Linked DNA regions of Homo sapiens: region 1 is linked to region 2. Evidence: fine-mapped expression QTL. A gene starts in region 2. The other region holds a variant in brackets. All regions are shown on one strand. Distances are from middle to middle.

Region 1 (15,886 bases), 21 kb after region 2:
TGAAGTCGATTTCTGAAAGTGTGTCTAGTAGCAGGACAGTGTTTCTGTAACTGAGGAGACACATTTGAACATTGAGCAGACTGAATATTTTGTCCTGTGAAGAAGCAGTTGGCTTGATGTAGATTAGTGTTAGAAGTGGACTGTACAGAACACAGAAGAAAATAGAAGGGATGGCAAGCAGAGAACAACAGAAGAAAAAGACAGGACAGGATCAAGGTGGACATTTCCTTTACAATAGGCTCATTTCCTAATGAGGAGAAATCTGAGTGAAAACAAGCTAATATTCTTCATATGTGAAAAGTGCTTAGAAAACAATAAGAAGTGGTGGAGGCTGTCAAGCCCTAAGTAGGCATTTCTCAAAAGAAGAAATCCAAATGGTCAATAGAGCTGAAAAAAAATAACTTCAATAACCAAATCAATTTAGAATAAAAATCATTTGCCATCTTGAGACTTAACAAGTTGGCAAGGTGTTTATCTTTTATAACACAAGTGATAACACATGTTGCTGGTGGAGGTTTGGGGAAACAGGTTGTATTTTATTAATGAAAATAATAGTTCGTCTTTGCCAGGTGATGGCATCAGGCGCTTTGGGAAATGTATATACTTCTCACCCAGGAATTCCCCTACAGAAAACTTATCCTAAAAATTAATGGTGTGCAGGAGGATATATTTAAAGAGGCTCATTGCTGTTCGTAATGGCGAAAACTTAGAAGCAACCCTAAGTGCCTAATAAAGAGGAAGAAGTTAAGTAAACTGATGTGTTCACACAGTGGCACGGGGGATTTGATGGTGCAGAACCATACTTGGTGCAGAACCATACTTACTGTAAAAGAAACATTTTCACATAAATTGTTCAGTGAAATGATAGGTACTAAATACCATGTACACTATGAGCCCAGTTTTAAAGAGGGTTTGTTAGAATAAAAATGAAATTTTAATGATGGTTGGTTCTAGGTTTTCTTTTTGCTCGTCTTTTTTTCCCCTAATTTTTCTGCGACCAACATCGGGGAAAAGGGAAGGTGTTTAACGGTCATATGTAATCTGAACCCCTAAAGAGTTGCACGGCAATCCCAAGCAAGCTTTGGCGCTCAGAAGGGGCTGTACATAGTGTTCCAGAAAAGTCAGGGTTTCTGTATTGAGTTAGAAATGCTGGTTGGCTCTCATCTGGTTATGACCATGGAGTCTGGTTTTAATTATGTAAATGGCATCTTTCATAGGTAAGGGAAACAAATTCCAGCCATTCCAGGGGTAGGGGAGAAAAAGGAGTAGAGAAGTGGGGTGAGGTATTATATTTCATTTTATTATTTATTTATTTATGTTTTTTTTTTGAGGTAGTGCCTCGCTCCATCACCCAGGCTGGAGTGCAGCGGTGCCATTTCGGCTCACTGCAACCTCCGCCTCCTGGGTTCAAGCGATTCTCCTGCCTCAGCCTTCCGAGTAGCTGGGATTATAGACGAGTGCCATCACGCCCAGCTAATTTTTGCATTTTTAGTGGAGACGGGGTTTCACCATGTTGGCCAGGCTGGTCTTGAACTCCTGACCTCAGGCGATCCGTCTGCCTCAGCCTCTCAAAGTGCTGGGATTACAGGGGTGAGCCACCTTGCCCAGGCTATATTTTATTTTTACTAGTTTGTATTTAAAGTAACCTTGAGACTTAGATGGATACCTTGTTTTGTTTTCTAGGCCAAACACCAGAGCACCCTAGAAGGTTTAACTAAAAGAATGCTCATGTTTGACCCAGTTCCTGTCAAGCAAGAGGCCATGGACCCTGTCTCAGTGGTAAGTTTTCCAAGATTGAACACCTCGCCTTATTTTTTCCAAGTGATGATAACATTATTGTGTGTTGAATTATTCCTTGAAATCATGGCCGGGCGTGGTGGCTCACGCCTGTAATCCCAGCACTTTGGGAGACCGAGGCGGGAGGATCACCTGAGGTCGGGAGTTTGAGACCAGCCTGACCAACATGAAGAAACCCCGTCTCTACTAAAAATACCAAATTAGCCGGGCGTGGTGGCACATGCCTGTAATCCCAGCTACTCGGGAGGCTGAGGCAGGAGAGTCGCTTGAACCCGGGAGATGTAGGTTACAGTGAGCCGAGATAGCAGAGATCGCACCATTGCACTCCAGCCTGGGCAACAAGAGCGAAAGTCCGTCTCAAAAAAAAAAAAAAAATCACTCATTGCTTGACAGGCATTTCATAGGCAAACTTTTCTCAACGCCACCAGGTATGAGTGAGCTAAATACTGTCCTAGCAGCTGTGGATCCTTTAAATGGGATCTGCGCTTCCTTAAGACCCGTGCCCGGTGTCCCCCTAAGATATGATCAGCATAGAACTTAGGCCACAGGTGAATCCTCTCATGACAGAAGTAAGTTTACAAAAATTCCTCAGCCCTTTTGTGTGTAAAAATATATTAAGAATAGGATGATTTGCTTAAAAACCAATGACAACAGCCATATGGAGCTGTAACTATATGAGATGACTGAGGGAAGCCAGCGAGAGAAAGACTTGGCAGTGAGGACGGAATCTCGTTTACTTGGAAGAGTCTGGCTGGGTAGGAATTACGTTCATTGTCCTTTTCAGCACCTTAGCGCTAAGCCAGCCCCTCATGGGAGCCAGGCCACTGGCTGCTTTTAGGCCGCCAGGGACTAGTGAGGAGTCTGGGGTTTCTGCAGGTACAACACCAGTGCCATGAAGGTGAGACATGGTGACAGAGGAAGGTGTCTGACTTCAGAGCAGGGAGTGGTTTCAACTTGAGGATTCTGGTTGAGTGAATATTGAATAACAAGGCAATGCTCCCACTCTGTCTTGCTCTTTTCTTCCACGGGCTTGGAAAATATTCACAAGGGGGAAAACTTGGCCCGAGGTGTGTATCTGAAGGTTGGTAATGACACGCTTGCAAAATTAGATCATCCTTGTGCATGGGCTCTGGAGGTTCCTGCCAAAAATGTTTATACAAGACACGGGGGTCACGCCGAGGCCCTTGGAGCTGAGTTGCCATGGATATTACTAAGCCAGTAAAGTGTTTACCAGTATCTATAATGCAAGTTAAGTCAGAGGGGCTTTAAGGAAATAACATTTACATTCCAGCATGATAACTGAATAACCAAGTGTCTGAATATGGTAGCAACTGAGCAATAAGGATTTTATTAATCAAAAAACTAAATTACTTTTTGAGATGGAGTCTCACTCTGTCGCCTAGGCGGGAGTGCAGTGGTGTGACCTCAGCTCACTGCAACCTCCGCCTCCCAGGTTCAAGTGATTCTCCTGCCTCAGCCACCATAGTAGCTGGGATTACAGGCGCATGCCACCACGCCCGGCTAATTTTTGTATTTTCAGTATAGGCCAGGTTTCACCATGTTGGCCAGGCTGGTCTTGAACTCCTGACCTCAGATAATCCACCCACCTCAGCCTCCCAAAGTGCTGGGATTACAGGCATGAGCCACCGCTCCTGGCCAAAAAACTAAATTACTTCGAATGTTATTCAGTGCTGTCATTGTATTCATCAAATCCCCCTCCCCGGCATCACTACATGATCACGTTAGAGGAAAATGAAGGTATAAAATTTCCCCATTAGTTATATTCTTGAAATAGGAATAGGTTTTTAGCACTGGAGAATATGATTCATTTTACAATTGGTGCAGAGCCATCAGTGAGGCATTTTACTGTTCAATGTACCTCCAGTGCTTTTAATCAAGCATGAACATAAGGCTCAAGAGTCTAATATAAAGCTAAAATGAAGATCCACATTGCTAAATTGGTGTGATATATATAATTAAGTGCAAGGAAATGCACTTAACCGAAAAAAAAAATGTGGAATAAAATGAATTTGAAGTAACTGTTAAACTTGTATTGTTGTAACGTAGTAATACATGAAGTTAAAATATGTAGAACTGATTTTGCAGTTAATGGTCTTTTTCTCCTTCATGTGCTAGATTTCAACTGCAGCTGACACTTTTAGAATTTAGTTTCACCAAAAGTTACTGTCAGTCCTTTAAAATGAAGGTGTTTTTTTTTCTTTTTCTTTTTTTGGTTTTAACTTTCTTCAGCAGGAAGTATTTTTTTCTTAATTCAGTGCAACCTCAGTTAACAGAAACATTTGAGCAGTGGGGTGTTAAAATGATTTTACTTAAACAAATTAAAAAGCTTTTGTTTCCACTCTTAAGTGTTCAAATTTCGTCTTTCCTGCCTTCATAGGTGAAGTATATTGAACCTAATTTATTATTCCTTTTTCTTTTTAATTCAGTCTTTGATCTGAAGGTAAAAGTCTTTCGCTATTCAAGTCAACGTTGTAAACATTAAGGCACAATAGGACATTTGTAAAAGTATTTTTAATTTCTATAGATGAATAAAAATATTTTATGGTAACTTATTTCTCCCCCTCTTCCCACCCCCTAAAAGGATAGCACAGCAGAAACAATCGCTTGTTTGTGCTTTTGCTATAGGTTAGAGAAAGTGAGGACATGTCATTTCCCTCTTAATCAAATATAAGCCCTCATACTGTTCTCCACTAGCCTTGTGCTTTGAGGCTTGGGGTCACCCTGTTAAAATTTGCTAGAATGAGGAACAGAGGAGACTCTCCCTCCCCAAGTCTGTGCCTTCAGTCTCTGCTACTTACATCCACCCAGTGTTGGCAAAATCACCAGCAGCTCCCCGAGCTTCTGTTTTTTTTTTTTGAAAAAATTATAAAATATGAAACTGTGTGTAAAAAAATGCGCATGTACATAAATTTTTTTTTTTACCATTTCCCAAAAGATTGAAAATTAAAGGATTTAATTCAGGAAGTGAGCAAGGAAACAAATTGTAAAAAAACAAAACAAATCAAAAAACAAACTTTAAAAGTATTCTTCTATTCCTGTGGAAAGATTACTTTTGAAGAAAGGATTAATAATATTCTGTTATCTTCAGTCATCTAACAGACTCCTTATAGATAGGAAAGTATGTCACATCAGTAATTTCCTCTGCTCTTTTCTAACAGAAACTTTTCATGGCTTTTTCAAGCCTGGTGGAAAGAGAGCTTTCTACCTCTGTTTGCATGGGGGTGCATGCCATTTGCTCTTCCCAGAGTGTGTGTTTATACACGCACCATGCCTTCCTGTGCCTGGAACCCTCTCTTGGATGAAGATTCTTTTGACTTGACCTGTAATGGACATTCACTTTTTTTCATGTTGAGGAATAGTGAAATAGAGATTTCATCCATGTTTCCGTCATTCCGTCCACTGAAACTGTCTTATAATGGAAAGCTCGCCAAAACTATTCCTCATAAAATGAGAAACTATTGCAATTATCACCTTAGCATAAAGTGATAGAGCTTTGGGAAATTATCCAAACATGGTACCTCTTTCCCTGTTGCAATTAAAATCATTTTTTCAAAGTTCAAAATAATTAGTATATTATTCTTCACCTTATCAGTAATAAAAACCTGCTAAGAGAGTGTGTCAATTTACTACACATTCATCAAGTATTAATTGAGCACCTATTGCAGGCCCTCATCACCTCACAGTGCAGTGAGAAGCAGCAGTCAATAAGTAAATGCACACTGTGCAGGGGTGTGAACATCTGAGTACATGTTACAGACGGAAATAACTCTTATAGCAGATCAGTGGTTTTGTGGAGGTTTTTTTGTTTTGGTTTTTTGTGTTTTTTTTTTTTTTTTTTTTGGTTTGGTTTTGGTTTTGAGACAAGGTATTGCCCTGTTGCCCAGGCTGGAATGCAGTAGCAAGATCACTGCAACCTCAAACGCCTGGGTTCAAGCAATCCTCCTCCCTCAGCCTCCCCAGTAGCTGGGACTACAAGCAAGCACCACCATGCCCCGCTACATTTTTGTTTTTTTCTGTAGAGACAGGATCTCATTATGTTGCCCAGGCTGGTCTCAAACTCTCGGCCTTAAGATATCCTCCTGCCTCAGCCTCTCCAAGTGCTGGAGTTAAAAGTGTGAGCCACCATGCCTGGCCCAGCCCATTGTTTTAAGCCCTTAAGATCCCTAGTGGGGGCCAGAGGCAGAAGCGGGAAAGACCCATGTCTGTGTCTTGTCTTTGGACTGCTCTGTTCCAGGACACAGGGTCTCTTGGACTAAGCAGCATGCACAGAGGGCACTGGAGGTCCATCCGTGGCCAGAGGCACATTTTTTGCTTCATCAACATTTGTCTCTGATTTGGATATGGGGCCAGTACAGCCGTGCTTGTATGCATTGCTTTGATAGAACATAGGAACTGTCTGGAACAGAGCGGGGAAGACTGTTACCAGGTTGTACCTGCCCAGAGCACACACCCTGCCGTGTCAGTCCCTACACGGCACCAGATTGTTGGAAGCTGATTGCAAAAGCTTGTGTGTGCCACCCAAATAAAGTGAACCAGCTTGAGGGACCACATGTCTTCACCCTTTTGTGAGGCAGTTGGGCTGGAAACAGTTAATTATCTGCCCAGAGTTGGGTGTCTGTGTCCAAATGTGTCTCTCCCCACAGTTAGTCTTGTACCTTACAATAATCGCACATCCAATAGAGGGAATGAGGGCATTCATTTGAGAACAGACTTATCAGCAAACTGCATAATGTTGATAAAGCTTAGCTTTATGTGTGGCTTTTTCTGTCTTAATGGCTTGAGAAACCTGAGAATATTATTAGATTTGCAAATCTGGAGGTTCTAAATTCCTACTCTCCCAAAACTCACCCCATGCATAGAAAAATCCAGCAATGACAGCAATAAAACTGTGTCCTCATTTTGCTTCCCATTTAGCTGCCAATAACTATTGGCATTAAAATCTAGGTCATAGGGAGGTCTTGGAAGAACAGGGCTGAAAATAAGGGAGAAGCTACATTTTCGTCAATAGAAACAATGCTGCCTCCCATTTCCTAAAGTTTTTTCCTAGTACCAGAACCATTGCCCTTTGGAGAATTATATAAAGCACATTAGACTTTAGGACTAGGCGAAATCATTCTCCTTCCTATATTTAATTACTCCCTGAAACCCTCCAGTGTACATGATTTATAATGGATTTATTTTGTTGTGTTGTTAATGAACCTTGTGCCTCTTTTAATAATACCCATCTTAATATTTAAATTTAAATCTATTTAATACTTAATGTTGCTATCTTTTGGATCTCTTGCGTTGGTACTGTGCGTGCCTGGCTTTAAAGAAAGGTAGAGAATCTTTTCTTCATTTGATCCTTGATCTATAACTCAAAGCTGTTTTTATGCATTTTGTGTTTTCTGATTTTATATCCTTCATGTTCTTGTTTTTAAGCAGTATTAGTAGTGAAAACTGGCTGCGCGTGGTGGCTCATGTCTGTAATCCTAGAACTTTGGGAGGTTGAGGCAGGCAGATCACTTGAGCCCAAGAGTACGAGACCAGCCTGGACAACATGACAAAACCCAGTCTCTACAAAAAAATACAAAAATTAGCGAGGCGTGGTGTCATGTGCCTGTAGTTCCACTTCCTCTGGAGGCTGAGTTGGGAGAATCATATGAGCCCAGGAGGTCGAGGCTGCAGTGAGCTATGATCATACCACTGCACTCCAGCCTGAGTAACAGTGAGACCCTATCTCAAAAAAAAAAAAAAAAAAAAGAAAAGAAAATTCTTTTTCCCTCCTTTAAATAGACCTTTAGTATCTTTATTTTTTATCTCTGTCATTTAGAGCATTGCTATTCAAAAGGTAGCCTAAGTTCCCTTGGTCCACTCCCCGGTAATTCAAAATTTGCATTTTAACGAGTGCTCCAGGGAGATGGATGTGCACAGTAAAGTTTGAGAAACTCTGGTTGGGAGCAGTAGAGCCCGTGACAGTGAGCATCTCTTGTATAAGCAGGGACAAGAAGGGATTTCCAGGATGGCATGTGTATAAGCTCGTTGTGTAGGTTATCCCATAACCTTGATCTTAACCATGAGGACCTGACATCCAAACCAGATAAAGATAAACACAGTTATGTGATAAAGTTTCACTGACTGACTCCTCCCTAACAGGCTGCTCTGCAGGCCTGGAGCAGGGACTGGGCATCTGGAATTTTAAAAACAACACAGATGATTCCAATGCATAACCAGCCGAGGATTCGCCCAGACCAAGCCCAG[A/G]GAGGAAAGAGGGTGATCTCAGTAGGAATCCCTATCAAAACCACTGCTGCCCCACAGTCATAACTCACAATAGTGGCCACCAGAGGGGCCAAGGAGACCCAGAAATTAATAGTGCATTTACGCTGTTTAATTACAAGGCACCATTGGGTTTTCTTGGTTGCATCCCAAGTTAGTATTGCCTCTAACTCTTAAACACATAGGGTTTTAGAGCTGGAAGAGAAGCACAATATGTTGTTTATCACTGTCACTGTCAGACATTCAAGTACAAAGAATTTTCTGCAGGTAAGCAGGCTTGACATGCAAAATTTCAGTTTCCCTAAAATGCCTAGTAAAGATGATGGTTTATGTTGAGTTTAATTTTTTTAAATTAAAAATTAGGTTGCATTCTACAAAGAAAATTTACAACAAAATGTTAGTTAAGGAATAGAAGTAATTTAGGTGAACTCCATGGTCAAGGATAGTGCCCATTGTGTGAAATTATGATGACTGGTTTGTATTTAAAGCTGGCAGATGAAAGTTAGGTTATCCTGATATTTAAAGAGAGAAAGGTGTTTGAAGATAAATGAGGTCAGTTGTGGACCAGATCTTGGGAAGGAAACAGACTCTTCTGTCTCTTCTGCACTCCCTTGTTTGTGCCCCAGCCTCATTTGATGAGTGGGTAGCAGGGTATAGAGGAGAGAACACAGGGCCTCAGCTTGTGTGAATGACTTTGAGCTCCACATTTCCTTATGTGAGTCATATCACGTTAGCTGTTTCTTATAGTTCCGTGTCATCCACAGACTTGCCATTCAAGTCTACAGCTTCATTCAGATTCTGAATAAGAACACTGAGCAAGTTAGGGCCAGGGACATCATTGCCGCAGTGAGGGTGGCCTTCAGTACAAAGGTGTGTATGGTGACTGACCCCCTCCTGGTTTGCCTGAGACTGTAGAGTTTCATGGGATGTGGGACTTTCAGTGCTGAAACTAGCACAGTTCCACGCTGACTAGGATTGTTGGCCAGTCCTAGGCATGGATTGTACAGCTGCTGAAGCCCATCAAATGAAAGGTACTGCCTATCCTGCAGCCCCATTCTTGCTTATTATACACAAGTATGATGAGAAATCAATGTCCTGCTGAAGTTGAAGACACTACTTATCCTGAGAAAGAGCTGTCCTGCCGAAGTTAGACATCAAAGCTAGAGAGCATTTCCTGCTCATCAAGAAACCCCACCAGAAAAGCAACCAGGTTGGTTTGGCTTGACTGGTTCTTGTGATGCCCACCTCTGACTCCTAATGATAATGGCCCCCAAGCCTGTGCTATCACCTGTCTTAGAATTTTGCCAGGTATCGGCCTTAATGTTTGACACAGGAATCATCTTAGGATTAAATTTCAGATTTTTCATCTGCAGTAGTGACCACATTGATCTTAGTTTTAATATTTTTGAGACCGCCTCTCATAGCATTTTTAATGTTGAGACCACCTCTTTGAGCATTTTTTTAAGGTCACATATATATCGAAATCTAAACTATTTTGTAAAGCCCATGTAATTGTTAAGTGCCTTGTTAGCATATTTTTCTTAATTCATGTTTCAAGTAAATGGACTTATTTGGCTGTTGACACGTTTTCCTTTTCTTTTCTAATAGTCATACCCATCTAATTACATGGAATCCATGAAGCCTAACAAGTATGGGGTCATCTACTCCACACCATTGCCTGAGAAGTTCTTTCAGACCCCAGAAGGTCTGTCGCACGGAATACAGATGGAGCCAGTGGACCTCACGGTGAACAAGCGGAGTTCACCCCCTTCGGCTGGGAATTCGCCCTCCTCTCTGAAGTTCCCGTCCTCACACCGGAGAGCCTCGCCTGGGTTGAGCATGCCTTCTTCCAGCCCACCGATAAAAAAATACTCACCCCCTTCTCCAGGCGTGCAGCCCTTCGGCGTGCCGCTGTCCATGCCACCAGTGATGGCAGCTGCCCTCTCGCGGCATGGAATACGGAGCCCGGGGATCCTGCCCGTCATCCAGCCGGTGGTGGTGCAGCCCGTCCCCTTTATGTACACAAGTCACCTCCAGCAGCCTCTCATGGTCTCCTTATCGGAGGAGATGGAAAATTCCAGTAGTAGCATGCAAGGTAAATTCCGCCACTGCTCCATGCTGCTGCACTTGCTTAGCGTACTGGCGCTTCACCAGATGGGGTGGGTGAGGAAGCATGGGGGCAAGAGCTGTTGAACTCTTCAAAGGAAATACTCATCTGCCTAAGGCATTTCCTTCCCCCGCCCCCCCAAAGTGTTGATACTGGAAGAGATCCCAAGAATCAGGCTGTCTGTTTGATACCATGACATGATTACTTTCACTATGTAATGGTCAACTTGGGGATAGAAAGAATCTTGACTTTATGTTGCTTTCTTGAATACCAACATGGTTCTAGGTACAAAAGGCATTTAATAAATCCTTTTTGATTGTGGTGAAAACTAATGGTGATCAAAAGCTACCTTGTTTATCAGCTGGTCATAGAGGACTAAGGGGTTGAAAGGAAATAATCCAGAATTATAAGAACGAATCATTTCAGGGCTGGTGTCTTATAATCTAGGTCCCTATATTTGCTGCTTACTGGCAAAATAATGGTCAGGAGAGGTGAGAATCTCCCACAGATTTGTTCCTGCTATAGTCTGCCAAAGGCAAATAAACCTGTCATATCTGTGTTGTAGGTAGGAGCTATGCAGTAAGCTTTTAAAAGCTGAAATTGGTAAACTGTACGTGAAGTGACTTTTCTATTTTTATTTTTTAGTACCTGTAATTGAATCATATGAGAAGCCTATATCACAGAAAAAAATTAAAATAGAACCTGGGATCGAACCACAGAGGACAGATTATTATCCTGAAGAAATGTCACCCCCCTTAATGAACTCAGTGTCCCCCCCGCAAGCATTGTTGCAAGAGTAAGTATATTTAGGTCTACCCAGCATTTGCATAGTAGTGTGCATCTTGGAACCTGGAGCAGAAGCACAAGATTTCACACGTGTGATGTGGTGTGGATGACCAGGAACGGCTTGTGATCTGTGGCCGCCACTGGTCCAGTACCACTGGTCAAGATGGGAGAATCTCTCCAAAAACAATATGCTGTTACACTGACAACGTTATGACAAAAGTTACATCAAGTTTTCATGGAATCAGTCATCCATGATTTTGCACCTTACCACATGAATTATTTTTGTTTTTTTTCCATTCTTCCAGGCTATGTATACTTAGTTTTTCCATTATGAGAATCCTTGTATAGATTAAACTTGGTGTTCTGTGGATCATGTAAAGTTTTCATGTGGACACACATAGTCCTTACAGAGTGTATAGTATCCTGTAGAATTGCTATCCAGTAGGAAGGCTGTGCAGTGTTGGTCAGCATCCAAGCACCTGAATGGTGGTTTCTTGTAGGTCTAACATGGTATAATGTGGTAGTTGCCACACACAGCTTCAGTAACCTCATTTGTGGGATCCTGCTGTAGATAACCTTGACCTCCACCAGTGATTACACTGAAGGCTGGGTTTGTAGTTGCTAAGAAGATGGTTTTCGGGTCCAACAAGGATCCCACCTCTGCTCTCTGCCATATGTATGATCTTGGACTAGTCACTTAATCTTGCTGCCCCATTTCTGTTTTCATTATTGATTGTAGTTGTGATTGTCTTGTGTTATGGTGCTTCAGCATTGGATTCAGCAGCCAGCTTCCTAGTACGAAGGCAACGATTACCTCCACAGGGTCCCTTCCATTGTCCTCCTGCATCATTTTCCTCCAACTTGAATAAATGTTCTACCCACCTTTCTCCTTTATTTTCTCTACCCCCTGTACCCCGCTCCCTCTCACAATTAACTCTACAGCAGAATGTGAATTCTCTGATTTTAGAATAACTATTTTATGGTAACTTCAAATATATCCTAGTTGTATCCACATTCAGCTTGGGTAGGTACCTTCATAGTAGCTCATGGATTAATTGTCCACTGCACCCAATCATAGTCATTTTTGGTTTGGGTTGTCATATGCTCCCCAATAGATGAAGAAGAGAATAACTCTTAGCCGACTTCATCAGCAGGTAGGGAGAGAGTCTCTGATGGAGTTATATTTCATTATTCCTCACAATTGCATAGTGCCCTCTTACCTCAAAAAAAACCTTCCCAGGTGTTTTCAAAGGAATTATTTTATTCCTCCACAACAAGCCTGTGGGAGTCGGAGCAAAAGGCAAAGTGATTACCTGAGACATTAGATAACTCGCCAATATTCACCCTGCTAACAACTGAGGGGCCTTGGGCTTGATCTCCTGCTTCCGAATCAGGGCTTTTCCTGCCATCTTGTCATATCCAACCCATTGCATCTGCTCATGCACTCAAGTGAAAGGAAAAAATGACTAGGCAAAATGGACACATCTTAGAGGTGGAATTAACTCTTTTTTTATGTTGAGGGATGTTTCTGGCAAGGTAACTAGCAACGTGGCCTGCACTTATAGTTGTTCCTGCATGGGTGATGAAAGAGATGCTATAAAACTAAATAAAACCAACTGCCTCCAAGGGAGGGATCCGTTGACTGGACAAGTGTTATTCCAAAGTCTGGGTTATTATGAGTTGCAACGTAAAACATTACATAAGAAGATTTGAAGGCAATATTCTGTGCTCTGAATGCTGCTCAAAAGAAAATACTTTTATTTTAAGTAATATTCTTTTGATGATCTCAAGCTCAGTGGCTTTTAATGATTAATGAGTAATATGCTTATTTTAATGCTGACCTAAGAATACATTCTGCTTCTCAAAAAAACGCAACAGATTAGCCACAGCTGGGACATGTACTCTTTAAGTAATGTTCTCACAGATGTGATTAAGTAACGTCTTGGAGTATGCCCAGTAGCAGCCCACGTAGGAAACCAGCTAGCCAGGAAAGAATCACTTGAAACTAGGCACCCAGTACCACTGCAGTGAGGCAGCCCCAATAATATTTGCCTTAAGAAACGCTTCCTTTCCAGAGGCAGACTTAAAAGTACAGCTTTGAAATCCATTTGCTCGATTGTGGTGTGGCAACTTTAGGATTATTTATAAAGGCACTCAAAGGTACATCAAATTCTATTTGTTACAGATTTACAAAAAGATTTCTTTGTTCTAAATATACAAAACTATATTTAGAACAAAAAGCATAAGGATCAGATTTCCCTATTGAGTTGTGTATGCGAATTATAGCAAACTTAAGAGGGGCTGTCTCAGCTCAAAACAGTGGACAAGATATCTTATATGTATTAGCTCTGTAACTTCTTGGTTATAATAATCCCAAACCATCTCTTTGAAAATGGGAGTGGAGACCAAAAAGTGTGAGATCCCAAGACTCTTCATCTAGCCTTGGCCTGAACCAACATCAGCGTCTTCAGAGATGCGGCAGGTTAACTGTGCTCAGAATGTTTGAGGGACACAGCTCAAGCAGAGATATCCTGGTTTGGGGACATCCTCAAAAAACTCATGAAATTAAACAACCATAGGGTACAAAGTTACAAATAGACTATTTTGAACCTGAAAATATTCATGGCTACCATTTATAGCTTTATCTTGGGAACAGACATTGTTCCGAGATATAACCTTCTGAGATAACATTATTATCATCCCCAGTTTACAGAGAGGAAACTAAGACACAGAGAGGGCGAGATCTTGGCCCAGGATCACAGAGACTGTCAGTGACAGAGCTGGATTTGTAACTGGAGCCCACAGCCTTTCGGTGCACCTTTATGTGTAAAATAAACAACTGGAAAGGGCAGTCAGAATTACTGCACAGAAACGATTAGATTCCCAACCCATAAAATCCAATAATTGGGAGAGATTTCTAAAGTTATCTGAAAAAGATAGTCTCCCAGTATCCCAAAGACATATAAAAGTTTTATAGTTAATAATTAAATTTCTACCCCAGCACTTTATTTCCTGAATTTCTTTTAATGGAAATGAAATATTTTCATTAGATGGCATTAAAGCTGAAAGTTAAAAATAAACTGAACTTTTTTCTTTCTATTGAAGGATTTTAAATGAATAATTCAGCCTTATAAAAACTCTGTCTGTAAACCTCTCACTTTGCTGTGTTCTCTGCTGTTTGCACATATATATATATGTATATATATACACATATATATACACGTATATATATATGTACATATATATACATATATATATACGTGTATATATATGTGTATATATATACATATATATAATTGAAGTCATTTTTCTTTTCTCCCTCCTCACTACTTTATGTTCACTTTTCCATGTATCTAAACTTGGCCTATTTTATCCATCTCTACCACCCTTCCAGGTATTAGAGTAGGAAGGTGAGAGTCAAAACTGACAGTTTCCTTTGCTCATAATAAAGCATGAGCAGTAAATAAATAATGTTTTTTTTAAAAAAAAAAAGCATGAGAAGTAAGGTCACTTAAGAAACACACCTTTTATTCTTTTTCTAGTCACTTCTTAGCATGCCTGAAAAAGTGATTGACAAGGGATGTGTATTCAAATATTTACCAAGACAAGTTTTATACCAAGAGACTCCCTTTTGATTTTTATGGATAAATTTCTTTTATTCTTTTTTTAAGCTCACGAGTTAGAGTGTTTACTCTCATCAAATTCTTTTTTTCCTTTTCACACACCTTTTTTCTCCTCAAACACTTAGGCAAAATATTCCTGTATTATATGGAACATTTTAGGAGCTATAGATTCAAATATGAAAGAGAAAGAAGTCTTTCATTACAGTTAGAGGCCAATGACATACACTTGTGATATATCAAGTAATTAGTCATTAGGAAAGTGAATGAGCAGATTAGAACATTATAATTACTTACATTAATCAGCAGGGGAAGCCTGAGGAACTTAACAGACTTTTCCCAGCTCTTCCTCCATCTCCCTTTTCTCTCCACCACCTTCTTGCTGAAAAAAAGCTTAGATTGTAAGATTTTTAACAGGATTTGGTTTCTAATCCACCCAGGGAAGGTGCAAACTCAGGAATGAGAGAGAAATCAGGAAGGTAGGGAGAACGTCAGGCATGCCATGGGGGAGCCGGCACCACGTGAGCCAGCATCATGGGTGACCACAACACTACATTGAAATTCTCCCTCATACAGGAATCACAGTGACAGTGGAGGTTTGAGTTTGTGAAGACAGCAATGCCAACTTTTTTGTTGTTTTTTGGAAGAGCTGGCATTTGAAAATTGCACATGAATTGGCAGTCTCTAAGGGACTCCAATTAAATGCCAATTACATAAAGGATAAAAACGTAGATATACCCTACAATGTGGTTTCCTGAGACTTAGGAGTTTGATCTTTTCCATTTTTCCCTAGCCAACAATAATGAAAATCAGAGCAGCCTGTGAAAAAATATAGTGTTCAGCATTGCCTAGAACCACAAGATTCTATAAGTAGGCAGAAGTTGACTGAGGAAAAGAGCCTCCCCAGCACTTGGTGCCTGCCTCTAGCATAGCACTTAACCCTTCTTACTGTCATTACTTATCTCCATGTCTGTCTCCCCCTAGAGTGTGAGCTCCTCGAGGGCAGGAACCCTGTTTTTATTCATCTTTGTGTCCCGGTGCCAAGCACAGTGCCTGGCTCATGGTAGGTGCTCACTCAATGTTTGTTGAATGAATATAGCAGTGCTTCTTGGGTTGATCAGCTAATTTCTTTTTGTTTATTTTGTTGGGATTTTTTGTTTGTTTGTTTTTGCCCAGTGTTGTTAATGCTTTTAGTAGACTGATGAAAAAGGAAGAGCGTGCTCTCAACATTTGGCCTGTAACCTTGGCTTTCACAGGAATCACCCTTCGGTCATCGTGCAGCCTGGGAAGAGACCTTTAC
Region 2 (15,886 bases):
TTTAATGGAATTAAGACATGACTTGAGGGCCTAAGTCTTACTCTGCCCATAGCTCTGAGTAATTTCAGGATCCACAAGGAACCATGTTTAACACCCCAGTCACTCTTTTCACTCATCTCTTCATCTTCAGGGATCTTCTCCACTCCCTTCTAGTTCTCCCACTTCCGCAGGCACTCCCTGGACCGCACCATCCCCTAGGACTGCTTCACCTCTAAATACTAAACTTACAGGTAGGTCCCCATTCTCTGACAACTCACCTCCTAACCTTCCAGGTCACTCACTCCATTATTCCCAAGACACCCATTCTTCAACCTATTTGGAATGTCCAGTTCACCAATCCCTTGGCTATTTCTCTACAGCCTTATTCTGTTTTACCTCTCTGAGTTAGGTCCCAAGAACCAACATTTCCACTGTGCCACTGTCCTTGGATTGCACTGTCCTGCCAAACACAATCCAAGACAACTGTCCACCTGCACTAGAAATGCTGAGAGCTTCTGGAGGTGGGAGTGGATCATACATCCAGTCTGATCTTCACCAGAACTCATGGTCACCTAACTCAACCTCGGTATTTCCTGGCAATTCTAAATTAGATGGATGGATAGATAATAAAGGTGGAAACTTGCAGAGATGATGCAGAGAATCTCCACACCTTTTGTAATGTTTTAGAGATGGATAATTCTTAGACTAGCATTTCTAATTTTACTTCAAATCATATAGCTTTGTTTTCCTTTAAGGTAAATGTATCTGTGCTGCTCGTAAATTCACAAGCACATGACACTTTTCTGCCTTGGTAGCTTTGTCTGTCATCACACGAGGAGGAGAAATGCCCTGGGAAGAAATAGAAAAGCTCTAAAGTAGATTGGAAAAGAAATAAGAAATCTCAAGAAAATGTATTTGTGTAGCAGGAAGAGACTGCCTGAGATGGGATATACTGTGATGTAAGTCACAAAAGAGAAAGTGGAGGTTTGCAGTGGCTTGTGTCCACTAGCCCCTGAATCCATTTCAACATGGTGTTATTGTCCTGGGGTAGCTTAGCTGTCATACATTAATTAACAAATACTTATGGAACACCTTCTACTTCTATTTGTCAGACACTGTTCTAGAAGCTTGAGAAAAAGTGAATAAAACAATGTCCCTGCTCTCACAGAGCTCACATCCTAATAAGAAAAAAAGGTAGCAAATAAACAAAAAAAGAAAGGGGGTTTTTAGTTAACGATATACAAAAAAAGAAAAGAAAATAGGACAATGACTAAACAATGAATGGGCATATTAGTCCATTTCGTGTTGCTGTAAAGGAAACACCTGAGGCTGGGTAACTTATAAAGAAAACACATTTATTTGGCTCACTGTTCTGCTGGTTGGAAGGCTCCTTCCTTGCATGGCAGAAGGTGAAGGGGAGCCAGTGTGTGCAGAGATCACAGGGCAAGAGAGAAACAAGAGAGCCAGGAGGGAAGTGCCAGGCTCGGTTGTTTTTTTTTTGAGACAGAGTTTTGCCCTTGTTGCCCAGGCAGAAGTGCAACAGTGCAGTCTCAGCTCACTGCAACCTCCGCCTCCCAGGTTCAATCGATTCTTCTGCCTCAGCCTCCCAAGTAGCTGGGATTACAGGCGCCCACCACCACACCTGGCTTCTATCTTTTTTTGTATTTGTAGTAGAGATGGGGTTTCATCACGCTGGCCAGGCTGGTCTCAAACTCCTAACCTCAGGTGATCTGCCCACCTCGGCCTCCCAAAGTGCTGAGATTACAGGCGTGAGCCACCAGGCCTAGCCCAGGCTCTTTTCAAGAATCAGCTTTCTCCGAAACTAACATAGGAAGTGTTCACTTATTCCCCATCCTCAGGGAGAGTGTTCATCTATCCATGAAGGATCCACTCCCATGACCCGAACACCTCCCATCAGGCCCCATCTCCAACGCTGAGGATCAAATTTTGACACGAGATTTGGAAAGGACAAATATCTGAACCATAGCAAAGAGGAAGGGGGGTATGTTTTAAATTGTGTGGTCAAGGAAGTCATTCCTGAGGAGGCAACATTTGAGCTGAAAACAGAATGACTTGAAAAAAAAAAAAACTATCCACATGGAAACGGAAACGTTGGCTTTCTCTCACGAATACAAGATGGCTACTACAGCTTCAAGCATCACATCCTCACCTAACAGCTTCCAAAGCAGGTCTGGGGATTTCCTTGTATCAGGAAAAAAACCCCAGCACACTTCCCTTCATGTCCCACTTGCTAGAACTAGGTTGCATACCTACCCTCCAACCAGTCACTGGCAAAAGACACTGGGATTGGCTGGGAGTAACCAGGGTTCCTCTGCTGGGACCAGGCATGGGTATCCTCCACTGAGGATAGGCTTCCCACACCTAAACCAGACTGGCCTGCTGTCAGCAAGGAAAAAGCGCAAAGCAGCTACCACAAAGATCACACTTGAGATTGTCATGTAGGATTTACTGAACACCTGACCATGTTCCAGGCACTGTGCTAGTGTTAGGAATTTTAAAAAGACCCAGGCATCGCTTTTACTATCTCACTCTGTTGCTTAAAAGCACTCAGGGGGGGTAACTCCCTCTTCCCTCCTCTTCACCATTTCAAAGCCCCTGGACTGATGGAGGTATAGTTCACTGCCACTTGCCTCCCTATAGCCCCCACTCACCTCTTCAGCTCAGAATGACTCCTCCCTCCTCGCAACTCATAAACCACATTTATTCCTTTGACAAATATTCATTGAACATCTGGGCCCTGGGAATACATTTTTGCTGAAAAGACAAGGTCCCTGCCCTCATAGAGTTTCCAGTCTAGTGCCACAGAGAGATCATTAAATAGCCAACTACAAGAACGGAAAGTGTTACAAGAGGGGAAATAGGAGGATCCACTCCCATGACCCAAACATCTCCCATCACGCCCCACTAGATGTTACCAGAGCACCTCAACTTGTCCAAAGGTGCAGTGAGAGAATACATATTTGGAGAAAATGTCATTTAAGTCAAGACTGAAACGATGTATAGAATTTAGGGAAATGGGAGTAGAGGTCAGGTTGAGAAGACAAGGCTTTTCTACCTAGAAAAATGAGCATGTGCAAAGGGCCAGAGGTGGGAAGAGAGAGTTGGAAGAAAGGAACGGAAAGAAGTTCAGCGTTGCTGGAAAAGAGTAGGAAGAGAGAAGAGGAAGAAGTGTCTGTAATGACAGGCAGAGGCCAGGCCAGCAGGGGTGGAAAGCTTAGGACTTCATCCTATGGGAAGCCATTGAAGGGACTGACACGATCAGGCTTGCATTTTGGAAAGGGCACTCTTACTCCCGTGCTCCAATGCCTTTTTCATGCTTCAGCCCATACTACAAACAGGATGACAGGATGACCAACAAGACATGGTGGCAACAGGCTGGGCCAGCATAGTGGCCAGAGAGTGGGTAGTGACCAAGGAGGTCCAGGACTCAGTGAAACATGGGCTATGCCCTGCTAGCGAGAAGAAAGGCTTAGGTGCTTCTGTTGGGGTTTTGTTTTTTTTTTGTTTTGTTTTGGTTTTTTTTTTTTTTTTGACAGAGTCTCACTCTGTTCAGTGGTGACATGATCTCAGCTCACTACAACCTCCACCTCTTGAATTCAAGCAATCACCCTGTCTCAGCCTCCCTACATAGCTAGGATTACAGGCGTGCGCCGCCATGCCTAATTTTTGTAATTTCCGTAGAGACGATGTTTCGCCAACTTGGCCAGACTGGTCTCGAACTCCTGGCCTCAAGTGATCCACCCAACTCGGCCTCCCAAAGTGCTGGGATTACAGGCGTGAGCGACCGCGCCCCACCCTGTTGGGCACTTTGAAGAATGATGGTGTCCTTCACTGAGCTACCCAGCACTAGATAGATTCATTTCCGACAAGTTGCATTTGAGCAGCTTCCCACAGGGCACCGAACACAGTGTTCACTAATTAACTGTTTAAAATGGCTTTTCTTCTCCTTTGCCGCCTGCCCCTTCCATATCAAAACCACTCCCTTCTTATCTTGGGTCACACTTTTCTCCGACAGGCCTATTTCGCTCTTCCCCTTTGCGTCCACACCCACATGAACAAGGTAAAAAACATGGTTTATGTGCTTCAAGTTCTCGTCACTGTGTCCCTGGAGAAAAAAACGTACTTTTTTGAGCACCTACTATGAGCCAGTTTCACCAGCCATTCCTAGCACGGTGTTCCGCTAATGCAAACCTTAAGGCAGCCAATCAGCCATTTAATGATGTCAGTGATCAATAAATGGCAATTAGTAATTGACACGAATCCAACTCTTTTTTTTTCTGGAATGTCTTTTATTCATTATGAAGAAAAAAAAAACTCACACCCTTTACATTTTAAAGATGAAGCTTATGGGACAGCACGACGTCCCATGAGCCGGCGTCGGTTCTGGGTATCCTCCACGTGGCCTTTCCTGGACTTGCGTTATTTAAAATATGCGATTTCACTACTTGAGGTTACCGAGTACTAATTTTACAATACTGTGTAGCTACATGAAGCGGCTCGAAATATACTATTATCACTCCGTTTTAAGCAGCACGATGTCTGGATGAAGCATCAAAGCGAGATGGGTCAACTTAAAGGGCCTTTAAAACATCTTGAAGCAATAATAAGCCATACACTGAAGCAGGGGCGGTTTTAAACATTACACAGAACTTAAAACAATCGAACGAATTCGTCCTTTGTTCTTTTTATTACATTAATTATTACATTAATACTGTTTAAAAAGAAACTCAAAAGGCATTAAACTTAGGTACCAATCTACACAAAGTCCTCGAAGGGGCCTGGCTTGGACCGAACGCGCTTTTGTGCCGCCCCGCTCGCTCGCAGCACCCTGAAGGCCACTGAGCTTAGGGCGCTAGGTCCCTAGAAGCGACTTGAAATGAGGGGGTCGCCAGGCCAGGCCCTCGCTCTGCAGGGGAGGATCCGACCAAAGTTTGCCAAGTTTCCAGGCAAGCCCAACTGCGCAAATGCCGCTTTTTAGCTCCAGCGGCAGGCCTGGCCCGTGGGAGTTTTGCCCCAGGGGTCTCCGGGCCTTCAAAGAAAAGTCCCACGAGGTGGGGGGCGCCGCCTGGGCCGCCGGCCAGGGGGACCCGTCGCCCCAGGGCACAAAGAAAGAGCGCGCCTACAGGGTGTCCCCTGACCCCGGCGACTCGGGGCCAGGGAGGCTCGGCGCGCCCCAGCGGCCGCTCTTCCCCTCCCGAACCCGCCCGGCCCACTCGCTCCTGCACCGCGGCCGCCTCGGCTCGGCTTTTCTCTTGCAGTGAGCTGAGTGCGCTCAGCCGAGGAGGGGCCGCGCCGCGCCGCGCCGGCCGCGGGGCCCAGCCCTTCCCGCCGCGCCCGGGGCCGCCCTTCCCGCTGGAGCCGGCTGATCGATGGCCCTGGCAGCCCGCGCCCCCCGCCTCGGCTCGCCCGCGAGCCCGGCTGTGTGTTTTGGAAGCAGCGCAGCGGGCCGCAGCCGTGTGACGCCCGGAGCGGGCAGCGCCGCCCTTCCTTCCCCCCGGGCTCGGGCGGCGGCGCGGCGGCTGGGCCGGGCGGGAGGGCTGGCGGGGCGCGGACTCCGGGGAGGAGGGCGCGGGGAGGGGACGCGGGCGGGGACGCGGGCGGGGGGCGGAGGCCGCGCCGCGCACGCCCAGCCCCACGGCCGCGCCGCGCCTCGTGGGACAGGTTGGGCCGGCGGGGCGGCGCCCGGCTCCGGGGAATAATGAGTGTCTGTCAGGCCGTCCCCGGGTGACTGGGCGGGGCGGGGCGGAGGCGGCGCGGGAGGCGGGGGTGGCGGGGGAAGGGCGCAGGGCGGGGTGCGTGTTTGCGCGAGTGACTCGGCCGACCCCTCCGGCGGCTGCCTCCACCCAAGTGGGTGGGGACCCGCCCAGCCCGGGCGGCCGCGGCGGCTCCCTCTCCCCTCCCTGACCCTCCCACCCCGGGTCCCAGCCTCTACTTACCCCGCCAGCCCCGGGAGGCTCGCAGAGCGAGCGGCGCCGGCGTCATGTGACTGCCCGGAGTTGGTGCCAGGAGCCAGAGGGGAGCCAGGAGCGGAGCCGCGCGGAGCCGGGGCCCGAGCCGGAGCGCAGCGAGAGCGCCCGCCGCACGCGCGCCCGTCCCCGTCCCCTGCGGCCGCCAACGCCGCCCGGACTGGAGCCCTGACATTGCTGCGCTCGGGGGGCTCCAGGCAGCCCGTATCGGGGCCTTTATTTCTCGTCGGCGGCGCCCTGCACCGCGCCTCGCAAAGTAAGTCCCGTCTCCCTCACCTCTGCTCCGCACCCTGGTCCCTGCCGCCCCCCTCCTCGGCCAGTCTGGTTTCATTTTTTCTCCTGGAGGGGGCCGCGGGGAATGGGTCGGGGGTGCAGCGCTGGTGTTGGGGGGGGCGCCTGCGGGCTTGGGAAAGTGTGGCGGCTACACTTAGCCGGGGTGGGGGCGGAGAGCAAGCAAGGAGGAGGGGGTCACGGGTTCGCGGTGAAAAGTGAGGGGTTGAGGCGAGGCACCGTGCGGACCCCGGGTGCGGGGGAGCGGGGCTGGCAGCGCCCGCCGCCGTCCCGGGCAGGGCGCGGGCGGGGGCTCACCTGTGTGGTCCCCGGCCTCCTCCCGCCCGCTCACGATTCCCTCCAAAGCCCCAGAAATCTCCGTGCTCTCCGCGTGTGGCAACGTTGTTTGGAGAAAGGTAGCGCCGCGGCCGCGCGCTCCTGCTCCTCCCCCTCCCGGTGCCCCCCCACCACCACCACAACCCAGGCTCCCGCGTCCTTCCCCTCCCCTCCCTCCGCCCGCGCCCCCCGCCGCCCCCCTCCCAGGACACGGCGCGCGGCCGCTCGCCCGCCACAGCAAACTTGGAGCAGTCTCCCGGCCCTCTGGAAAGAAACTTAGGGCAATTGGGATTGGAGGCAGCATCCCATTCTCGGTTCTGGAGCCCAGGAGCTGCCAGGGCGTCTGGATCCTCCGGGGCAGGAGAAATGAGCTGGTCGGGTTTGGAGAGTCTTCCTGGGGGCATGGAGAGAACCTGCCGCAGTGCCTGGAGCAAGGATTGCAGCGTGGCTGAAGGCGGAAGACGCCTTAGGCAACTGCCTGCAGCCGAGCCTGATGGGGACCCAGGGACAGATCCCTGGATCAGGACCCATGGGACCTACCTAACATTTCCAAGTGGCTTTCTTAGAGATGGCAGATGAGATCTGGAATTGTCATATTCATTTTTTTGGGCAGATAGCTACTGACAAGGAGAAGCACTTTTCTGGTTTAAATTTTATAGCAGTATACAATAATACTAGAAGAATGTGAATGAGACTTATTTTTAATAAGTCAAGTTAAACGGAAATTGGAAATTGCTCACCTTCTTGTATTTCACTAAAATAAACATTTTACACTTAACCACTGAATTTCTTACTCAGAATTTATGTTTCCATTAATATCACCCAAGACATTTTAAATATATTGATTATATTCTCACAAGAGTCTGGTATATGGGAAAAAGTATGAAGTGGTATTCTGACAAGTACCTGAAATGTGCCAGCAAAATCAAGTGGGGAATAGGCCAGTTGTTCATTATAGGTTTTTCCACACAGCAGTTTTGTGCTATCCTTTTCTGTACGAATTTGAGGAGCATTTTTATAAGAGAAATTCATCTGGATGATCTGCCTCACCCTAGGGAAGAAGACTTGCTTTTAGGGGAAAAAACAATCTGCTAGCATTAATATCTACAAATTTTTTGGAGTTAGTAATAGTGTTTAAGGAAAGTGTCCACGAGTGATTTCTTCTGGTTTGAAAAGAGGTATGTTAGTTGACCTTAGGCTGTTAATAGAAACCTGAAATTAGATGTTCGATTAAATTAAACTCCCTAGAGAAACTGGTATCTTCATTTCTGCAGTCAGTGGGCTTTGCTGCAGAACTATTTATTAGAAGAAAAAAACCTAATGTACTATCGGTAAGTTCAATGATGATACATTGTAAAGAACATTTAGCTTGCATGAAAGGGAATGCAAGTACAAAAATCTCAACATGGGAATAACAAAGAAAAGTAACTGCTTAGACCACAAAACCTTGTCAGGTACAAAACGACAACAGAGTTTTGCAGAAAGCTATTGTTTTATTCACTGCAAAGTTTCTAAATTAAAACCCAATCTTCTTGTTGCTATGGGCACAGTGATGCTCTTTTTTTCCTTTTTTTTTCTTTTTTTTTTTCCTTACCTGTACTTAGTCTGCACACACCACATTCTTAAATCTCTGATAACGTAAGCTTGAGTTAAACAGTCCTGGCTAACAAAGTAAAGAGAAATAATGGGAAAGGAACTGTGAATGGATTTTACTATCTTAAAAATAACCCAAAGGGAAAATAGACATTTTAGAATGACTTCTAGAAATTAGTACTCTGGTGTACAGATTGCATAATAATTTTTAGATAAATGTCAGGAACAGAATCACATTCTTAAAAGGCGAATTTCTATAAACGTGTGTATATGTTGAACAGATGAGCAGCTCTGCAAAGATGTGTATAACTGCATTTGAAAAAGACAGTGAAAATTTTGGGTTACTGTAGATGTCCCACAGTCTGTCTTGGAATTTAGTTCTGTGACTAAAGGAGGCTTACAGTTGCTCCAATTTTGGTTCTGTGGGGTACCCCAATTGTAATCTGAATTCCTAACAGCAGTGCTCTATCTTTTTTCCTCTTGATGCACTGAGGCTGAACCATAATCATTACCCTAACTCGGAATTTGATCTGAGCTAGGGACTAGCCATTGGAATGGGGCAGAAAGGGACAAAAGAAATCAGGAGGGAGGCTAGTGTTCATTAGGAAGGTCTCTGCTGCTTGAATATGATAAAATCACATTTCACTTATGATGTTTACTGTATGTGGCAGCTCTTATTTGTAAATAGGGCAGGTCCCCTGTATAAAGCTGGTGTTATTATTCACACCCGTAGAACAAACACCTCCACCCCCCTGTTGTTGTCTTAAAAAACTCCAGCTGCTCATGAATATAGGGTCAGGGAGGGCCGGCTAAATGTTTCTCTGTGCTTTCTCTCCAGCACAGCCAGCAGAGCTGTTTCCTGTTCTTTGTTTCAAGGCTGGGGTTTGCGTCATACATTCCAAGTGGCATATGTGTGCTCTTTCCTGTTTCAGGCTGTTTTCTGGTAGATCAGTAGCCCAGACCAGGCTGAGGTCCCTGCCCCTAAACTCCGTATCCCCACCCATGGAGTTATCATGTCTCTACACACTTGATATTGCTTAAGACGCCTGTGTTATGTCATAATGAGAAGTCAGTTAACCTTTTTACGTACACCCTTTGCTCCACTGCATTTGTCTGGGTGAATAAATGCTTTTACCTTTTTAAATTTTTTATTGCTAGATTGTGATTTGGGGAAACGTGGGTCCATCCTGGCAAAGAAACCTAAAGGAGTTTTGTTTGTATTTGTTTGTAATTCTTGTGTTGAAGTGGTTAGGGCGTTTGTTTTAAGATAGGCATTTTGCCCTGAAGCTGTCAATTTTGGATCAGGATTAACACCTTACAGTTTAGAAGACCTAGCATTATCTGAAAGATGTGGCCCACCCTCGTTCACGTTTAACCCAGGCTGCTCCAGGTGGCTTCCGTGGATGGAGAATTTAAGCAATGTTGGCAGCCTGGCTTTAGTTTAAGTCTTGCTTATGTTTGGAAGGAGAAATCTTTAGAAAAATCATTGAAGCAAAGCCTAAGACATTGAGAAAATCCCGGGATTATTTCTTTTTAAGGACAAAGATTTAAATATCAGGATAATGTTTTAAGGACAAAGATTTCACTGTGCAATATTCTACACCTCATTTCCAACCCGTTTTTAAGAATTAAAAAGCTCAAAGGAGAACTGGCATTAACAAATTCATTTAATGCTAGATTGTTTGGAAAATTTTAATCTTCTATTTTGAAAACAAGAAGAATGCTCTTCTCATTTTTGTTTTACAATAATATTTTTCATTTTTTAAAAATATTCTATCAGTTGTGGGTTAATGAATTTCTAGGATAACTATTTAAGACCTGCCTTAATATTAGTTTTCTGTTGGTTCTTGAGAAACTAAGATTTAAGGAAATATTTGCTTGAAAAAGAAAAGTTTTGGAAAGTGCTTTTGTAAACTTACTTGGGGATTTTTTTTTTTTAATCAAAAGGAATCATCTACAGCATCTCTGTGGAATTAATTTAAAGAGTTGCTGAAGCAGCAAATCAGGCTCTCTTCTCCCCAAAATTGATGATAATGGTGCGTTTTAAATGTCACATTCCACCACATTCTTTATGTATAAATGGAAAATATAAAATATGATATTAAGAGAGTTATTAGTATCAAATAGTTGGCTACTGATAACCTTCTATGAAAAAAGCTGGGAGTTTTAGAAGTCCCAATAACTTCTTTCTCCTTTGGGAAAAGCAGCTGGAAATACTTAGCTGACCTGTAGGACAAGAGACTTTTAAGCTTAAAATTCATAAGTAACTCCAATCGAAGCAGGTTTTTTTGTTTGTTTTGGTTCCAAAGTTGTTAACAATCTAACTAGGTTTGGTAAACAGAGTCTTTATTTGGCTTTCCCCAAATTCTTTCTTCTCTCTTTTGCAGGGAGATGAAGTGGTTAATAGAGATAATTAGGGTCTAATATATTCTATCAGAAAAAAATTCTGCAAGCTTCTAAATGCTAAGCTGAATAGTTGGGGAAAATTATCCTATCTTATAGTTGCTATGATTACCAGAAAGATGGGAACAAGAGTTTTAATTTCTTAACCATATAAATCATGATTCCTAATTTAATTTCATTGTGTCTCCATCGCCCCTTGAGATACTTGCCTTCTTAATATTTTCAAATCAACATTTTTGCTATAAAACGACAGATTTCTTAGGCAGCATTTCTTGTTCTCTGTTTTCACACCCAGTTGAGTTTAAGAAAAATAAAATACACACAACCTCATTCTTTAAGGTACTAGGAATTACAATTACATTATTCTGGAACTTGGATTCTTTCTGAAGTGCATCATTTATCATTGGTTCTAGCTTTTTAAAAAAGCAAATCCCTAGAATCTTAAAACAATTGATATCTAGTTTGCTAGTATGTGATATTCTAGTCAGAATTCCTCTTGGGAGTGAGTTGGAAGAGGGTTATGGTGGTCGCTAGCATTCTCATTTTCAAGACCACTCTGTTCCTTTCTTAGACCATGTTTCTCATCTTAAGCAGTCATGCCCGAGCTGGAGACAGGAAACCAGACAGCAGTCTGCCCTGATAAGGGACAGCATTGTCTGAAGGCGGGGAATAGCCCTGCTTTTACCCCCAACTCAGCTCTCTTTGCTTGAAATTTAGTAGTCATAGAAGAGGCACAATGCTGTTGACAGTTTCTGAACCAAAACTAGGATTCATTTCTTCCAAAGCAAAAAAATAGTGTCCTCGGCCGGGCGCGGTGGCTCACACCTGTAATTTCAGCACTTTGGGAGGCCGAAGTGGGTGGATCACCTGAGGTCAGGAGTTCGAGACCAGCCTAGCCAACATGGCAAAACCCCATCTTTACTAAAAGTACAAAAATTATCCGGGCGTGGTGGTGGGCGCCTGTAATCCCAGCTACTCAGGAGGCTGAGGCAGGAGAATTGCCTGAACCTGGGAGGTGGAGGTTGCAGTGAGCCGAGATTGTGCCACTGCACTGCAGCCTGGGCAACAAGAGTGAGACTCTGTCTCAAAAAAAAAAAAAAAAAAAAAAAAAAAAAAGATGTCCTCTTAACTGGCCTTGTCCTTATTCTGTAATGAATGTGACCATATTCTCTGGAACAGTAAGAAAATAAAAAAATGATCTGTGCATTTTGTATCCGTTGGCCAGAGAGTTTGTAGTAAAATTGTTTCTTTAGCAAAACAGGCTCCTGGAGGTTTTTGAAACTCACTCCATTGTGTCGGCAGGCTGAATTCATTATCATTTCTCCATCTAATTATTTAGAAGGGCTGGAGACAGAAGAGAGCAAGTTAAGTGGCCCTCTAGCCCATGCATTTCATGTAACCCCTGGGTCTGGCTCTTACCCTGTTTCCTGTAAGGGGGCGCTCCCTGAGGCAGACCCTTTGCAGGAGGACCCAGAATTGCCCTGCTTAGTCTGGGACATCCTCAGGATGGTTGCCAGTCTCTGGAAGGCTTGTGGATCCTGCCAGGGATGGCCCAGAGCTAGTCTCAACCCAAATCAGTGGAGTTTGGCCAAATCTGGACATAAGAGATCAAATGAGTATTGAGGTCAGCGGATTCTGCCCTGGAGAGCGACCTGCAAATCAAGTGTGGGGTTTTTTCTCTGGCCTATATGCTGTTCTTTCTACTACCACTGTTGTTTAAGTGTAATCACTGAAATCCACTCCTTTATCTGTTCCTGTACTTTGCATCCCTGGTACCTTCCAAAGCTTCACACTCCAAAGCCTCTTTCATTTGTAAGATCGAGTTCCTGTTCCGCTGAGTTTCCAAACCAGGGAGTTTTTCTCTCCCAGGCTCCCAAAGTTTTCACATTTACTTTGCATTTTAGAAGATGAGGTTTCAGGCTGGCTTCACCAGCCGCTGGACAGAGTTTCCATGTAGGACACCTGGTGTACCATCATTCCAGGGCCCTTGCCCTTAATTTATCCTAGCATGTGAGAAGTGTAGTTTGACATCCATTCATTTATTCATCTCACAAGTATTTATTGAGTACCTACTTATTAGAGCTAATCTCAAATTATGTGCAATCATTACTCTGAGTTATGCCATAGGATGGAGTAGATCTACAGTGATCTAACCTGAAAAGGCATTTTGAAATCTTAATTGCCTGCTGGAACCTCCCCCTGGCACTGCTTCCCATGGGCCAGTGTGGCTGTGCACACCCACACCCTCCCTACTGGGGAAAGACCCCAGCATTAGGCGATTTTACCTAAAAGTCGGTCCCACAGCACAGGCTCTGAAGCAGAACAGAAAGTGCCCGGGTCTGCAGGCAGACACGCTTCTGTTCCTGGCTGCAGCTCCAACCAGCTCTGTGAAATTGGGCGAGTCATTTCACCTCTGTTCCTCCATTTCCTCATTTCTAAAATGGGGATGAGGACCTGACCCTTCCACCTTTGTGCAGTTATTATGAGGATTTCCGTATTTACTTGGGTCAAGCTGCCAATTTTTCTCAGCAGTTATATCGACAATGCAGGTGCACTGGCTAGGAAGAATAATTGCCTAATTTGGGGCCTTCAGAATGTGTCTTTTGATCTTGCATCCAAGTGTGCGTACTGAGACAGGGTGGGCAGCAGGGGCCAGTTGGAAGGAGTGGAAACTGTCACTAATGTAAACAGACTGTCCCCACGTTCTGTCTTCTCCGGGGACCAACCTGTTCACAGAAATCACTATCATGTACTTACTGTTGGTGGTGTAATGTTGTCCTCTGCCTGGGGAGGTGGAAGAGTGGTGTGCCAAGGCCACCAGTCTTAAGTCAGACTACCTTGGGTTCAAGTCCTGGCTCTACGAGTTAGCAGCTGTGTGATGTTAGGCAGGTTACTTGACCTCTCTGTTTCAGTGTTCTTTTCAGTAAAACGGGAAGGTAGTAACCACCTCATTGACATTAAACAGCGCCTGGGGATTGCCAATCACGAAGGTGGTGGTGATTGGCAGGAAACCTGTGACATCACTTAGCCCCTTGCCTTCCTTGATCCCTTTTCAAAAACCTGTGTTTGTGCACACACCCCTTCCCCTTGCAGTTCCCCCCCACCTGCCTCCTCTCCTCCCTTTCTCGCTTTCTTTTTTCTATTTTAGATTTTAAAGTACAGTAGAGACCTCGACACTAGACTTGTTTAGAAGACCTCACTGAGTGGATAATAATAAATTATTTGAAGATGGTACTAATAAGGTCTCTGGAGTACACATGATGGGCCAGGCTAAGGTTAGGGGCAATAACTTTTCCTTAGGAAGTTTGGTTTACTAGGTCTCCCTTAGAGTTAGGCCCTTCATCCCTATTACTTGTTTAAGGGAGATTTCAAGTGCATTCAGAGGGAAAGGGAGATGATTGTGGAACTCCTACTATAAGCTAAGTGCTCTTATGTTAGCTCCTTAGGCTTGACATAAAAACTTCATTCAGGGAACAAGCCCGATCTCCTGTGGGGAGTGGGGAGGGAGCCCTCTCAGGAAGGCTGAGGCCTGCCTGTCTGTCCTTCCCAGTACTGGTGGCGGTGTGGGACGCACCACTGGGAAAGCTAAGAGGCCTAGACTATCTAGGTAAGAAGAGGCGGCCTTGGATCCCCCAGGGAGCAATCAGCTGGCTGCACAGAGTGGGGAGGGCCTTGAGCTGGTCTTTGAAGAATTAGGGGGATTTAGATAAGCCGGAAGGGGAGGGGGCATTCCATTGCCGGTTGCCCAGCATCAGGGCCAAAAATGAACAAAGGCCTGGGGGTGGGCAGGGCAGCCGGCATGAAGGGCACTTGTTGGAGCAGGGGGCAGCTCGTGGGTAACGGGGTGCCAAGCATGGGTGCCTGAGCCCACTGTCAGACCCGGGGAGTGCACGGGAGGGAAGGTTGTGAGCTGGAGAAGGATGGGATGAGAAGAGATCTGTGAAAAACGTGGGTGGCAAGGGGTGAGGGCTGGACTGGAGAGGCTGAGGGAGACCAGTGGTGGAAAAGCTGCAGCAATGCAGGTGGGAGGCGCTGAGGGCCTGGCCCCCAAGGCAGGAGGGGAGAGCAAAGGAGGTGAGGAAGGCTTCAGAGATGGCCTCTAGGTTTCCATGGTGAAGGACCAGAAAATAAGGCCAATGGGAGGCGGGGAGGGGGCAGCCTTAGAGGCAGGAACAAGGAGGGGTAGGGTTGGTTTGGGCCACGTTGATAGCAGTGGTTCAAAATGCTTTTCTCTTTCTTTTCTGCTTATTTTTAAAGGGAGAGGGTAGGCTTCGCTCATGGTTTTGTATCCAAAGTTTCAGTGGCTCTCTGGGAGGAACTTCAGTGGAGAATCCTCAGGAGCAGAGGAATGATCACAGCCCCATGGTTCCTTCTGGTTATTTTTAAGATTCTAACCATCCCTGTTCAGGCCGGAATTTCCAGGAACTGGCTGCTGCCCAGCGCCAACTGGTCCCTCCCAACCTCCCACTCCCTGCAGGGTGGGGCCCCATGGGTGGAGGCTCCTTAGGGTGGAGTTGGGTGGGTCTCCAGTGATAGGGAGGGCACTGAGCAGAGGCAGATGAGAGGCAGTGTGGCCTCACGCAGCCCTTCTGGATTTGATTATATAACACTTCATAGAGGAGAATTGTGAGGGCTTAGGCGAGGCCTTGTGAGATATGTACACAGCAGGATTAGACATTATGGGTATTTTTCAATTTATCTTGGGTTGCCTGCCCTTAAAACTAAAACACAAAATTGTCAGAGAGCATAAACAAGTGTGTAACCCTAGTAGGGAAAATGATTCGAGTTTGCTGCAGTTTCTCTAAGAAGGGTGTGGAATGCCACTAGCCAGATGGCCTTGAACTTAGAGGGTAGCATAGGTGTGGGTGTCCCCGCCCCCAGCCCTGCTTTGCTAGGCCTCAGTTTGGAAACTTGTCAGGCTTCTGCTTGGTTGTTACCTTTGCACCTGTCCTTATTGACATGCAAAATCAATTGCTTCACTTGGTCTTTCCGAAGTACAGGGTGTGGGCAGAATCTTATCTGAAGCCATGTCCTGTTTGGACAAGTTGGACTTGCCTTGGCAACTCTCCATAGGGTGGAGCAGATGGGTGGAGGCAGGAAAGTAAAATTGGGTGGCTTGTTAGCAGAGAGAGGAGAGAGGGTGGGTTGTTTGCTCACTGGATCATTATATTTCATCTGAAATGAAATAATTAACTTCTTTCCCATTTATAATACACATTAATGCAAAATAACTAATTCATGAGGGGCGAAGATTTAGAAACACCCCATGGAATTTTTCTCCTTTTCAAACCAGTCATAGAAGAGTAGGACAGGTGAAA

What was found. PIP is the estimated chance that this variant, and not a neighbour inherited with it, causes the effect.
Region 1: its variant is the best candidate, but not a certain one, in a credible set for the expression of KLF3 in whole blood (TOPMed, PIP 0.50).

The regions. Positions count from the first base shown.
Region 1 is chr4:38,678,904-38,694,789 of GRCh38, forward strand. KLF3 (KLF transcription factor 3) reads left to right here. Exons shown (of 6, transcript NM_016531.6): 2 at 1,684-1,779; 3 at 9,682-10,168; 4 at 10,826-10,976; 5 at 15,843-15,886. The coding sequence starts at 1,723. Among named protein-coding and RNA genes, the nearest start is that of KLF3-AS1, 22 kb to the left of the region's middle. RefSeq lists enhancers at 8,310-8,479, 9,228-9,397 and cis regulatory regions at 8,395, 9,313. The variant A/G (reference allele first, on the strand shown) is at 8,059.
Region 2 is chr4:38,658,240-38,674,125 of GRCh38, forward strand. KLF3 (KLF transcription factor 3) reads left to right here and starts at 5,960. Exons shown (of 6, transcript NM_016531.6): 1 at 5,960-6,222. It overlaps KLF3-AS1 (KLF3 antisense RNA 1), which reads right to left and starts at 6,654. Exons shown (of 16, transcript NR_171644.1): 1 at 6,555-6,654. RefSeq lists enhancers at 3,828-4,149, 8,184-9,034, 9,035-9,884, 9,074-9,123, 11,531-12,100 and 2 more, silencers at 4,861-5,380, 5,411-5,680, 5,691-6,290, 6,351-6,700 and a promoter at 5,420-6,222.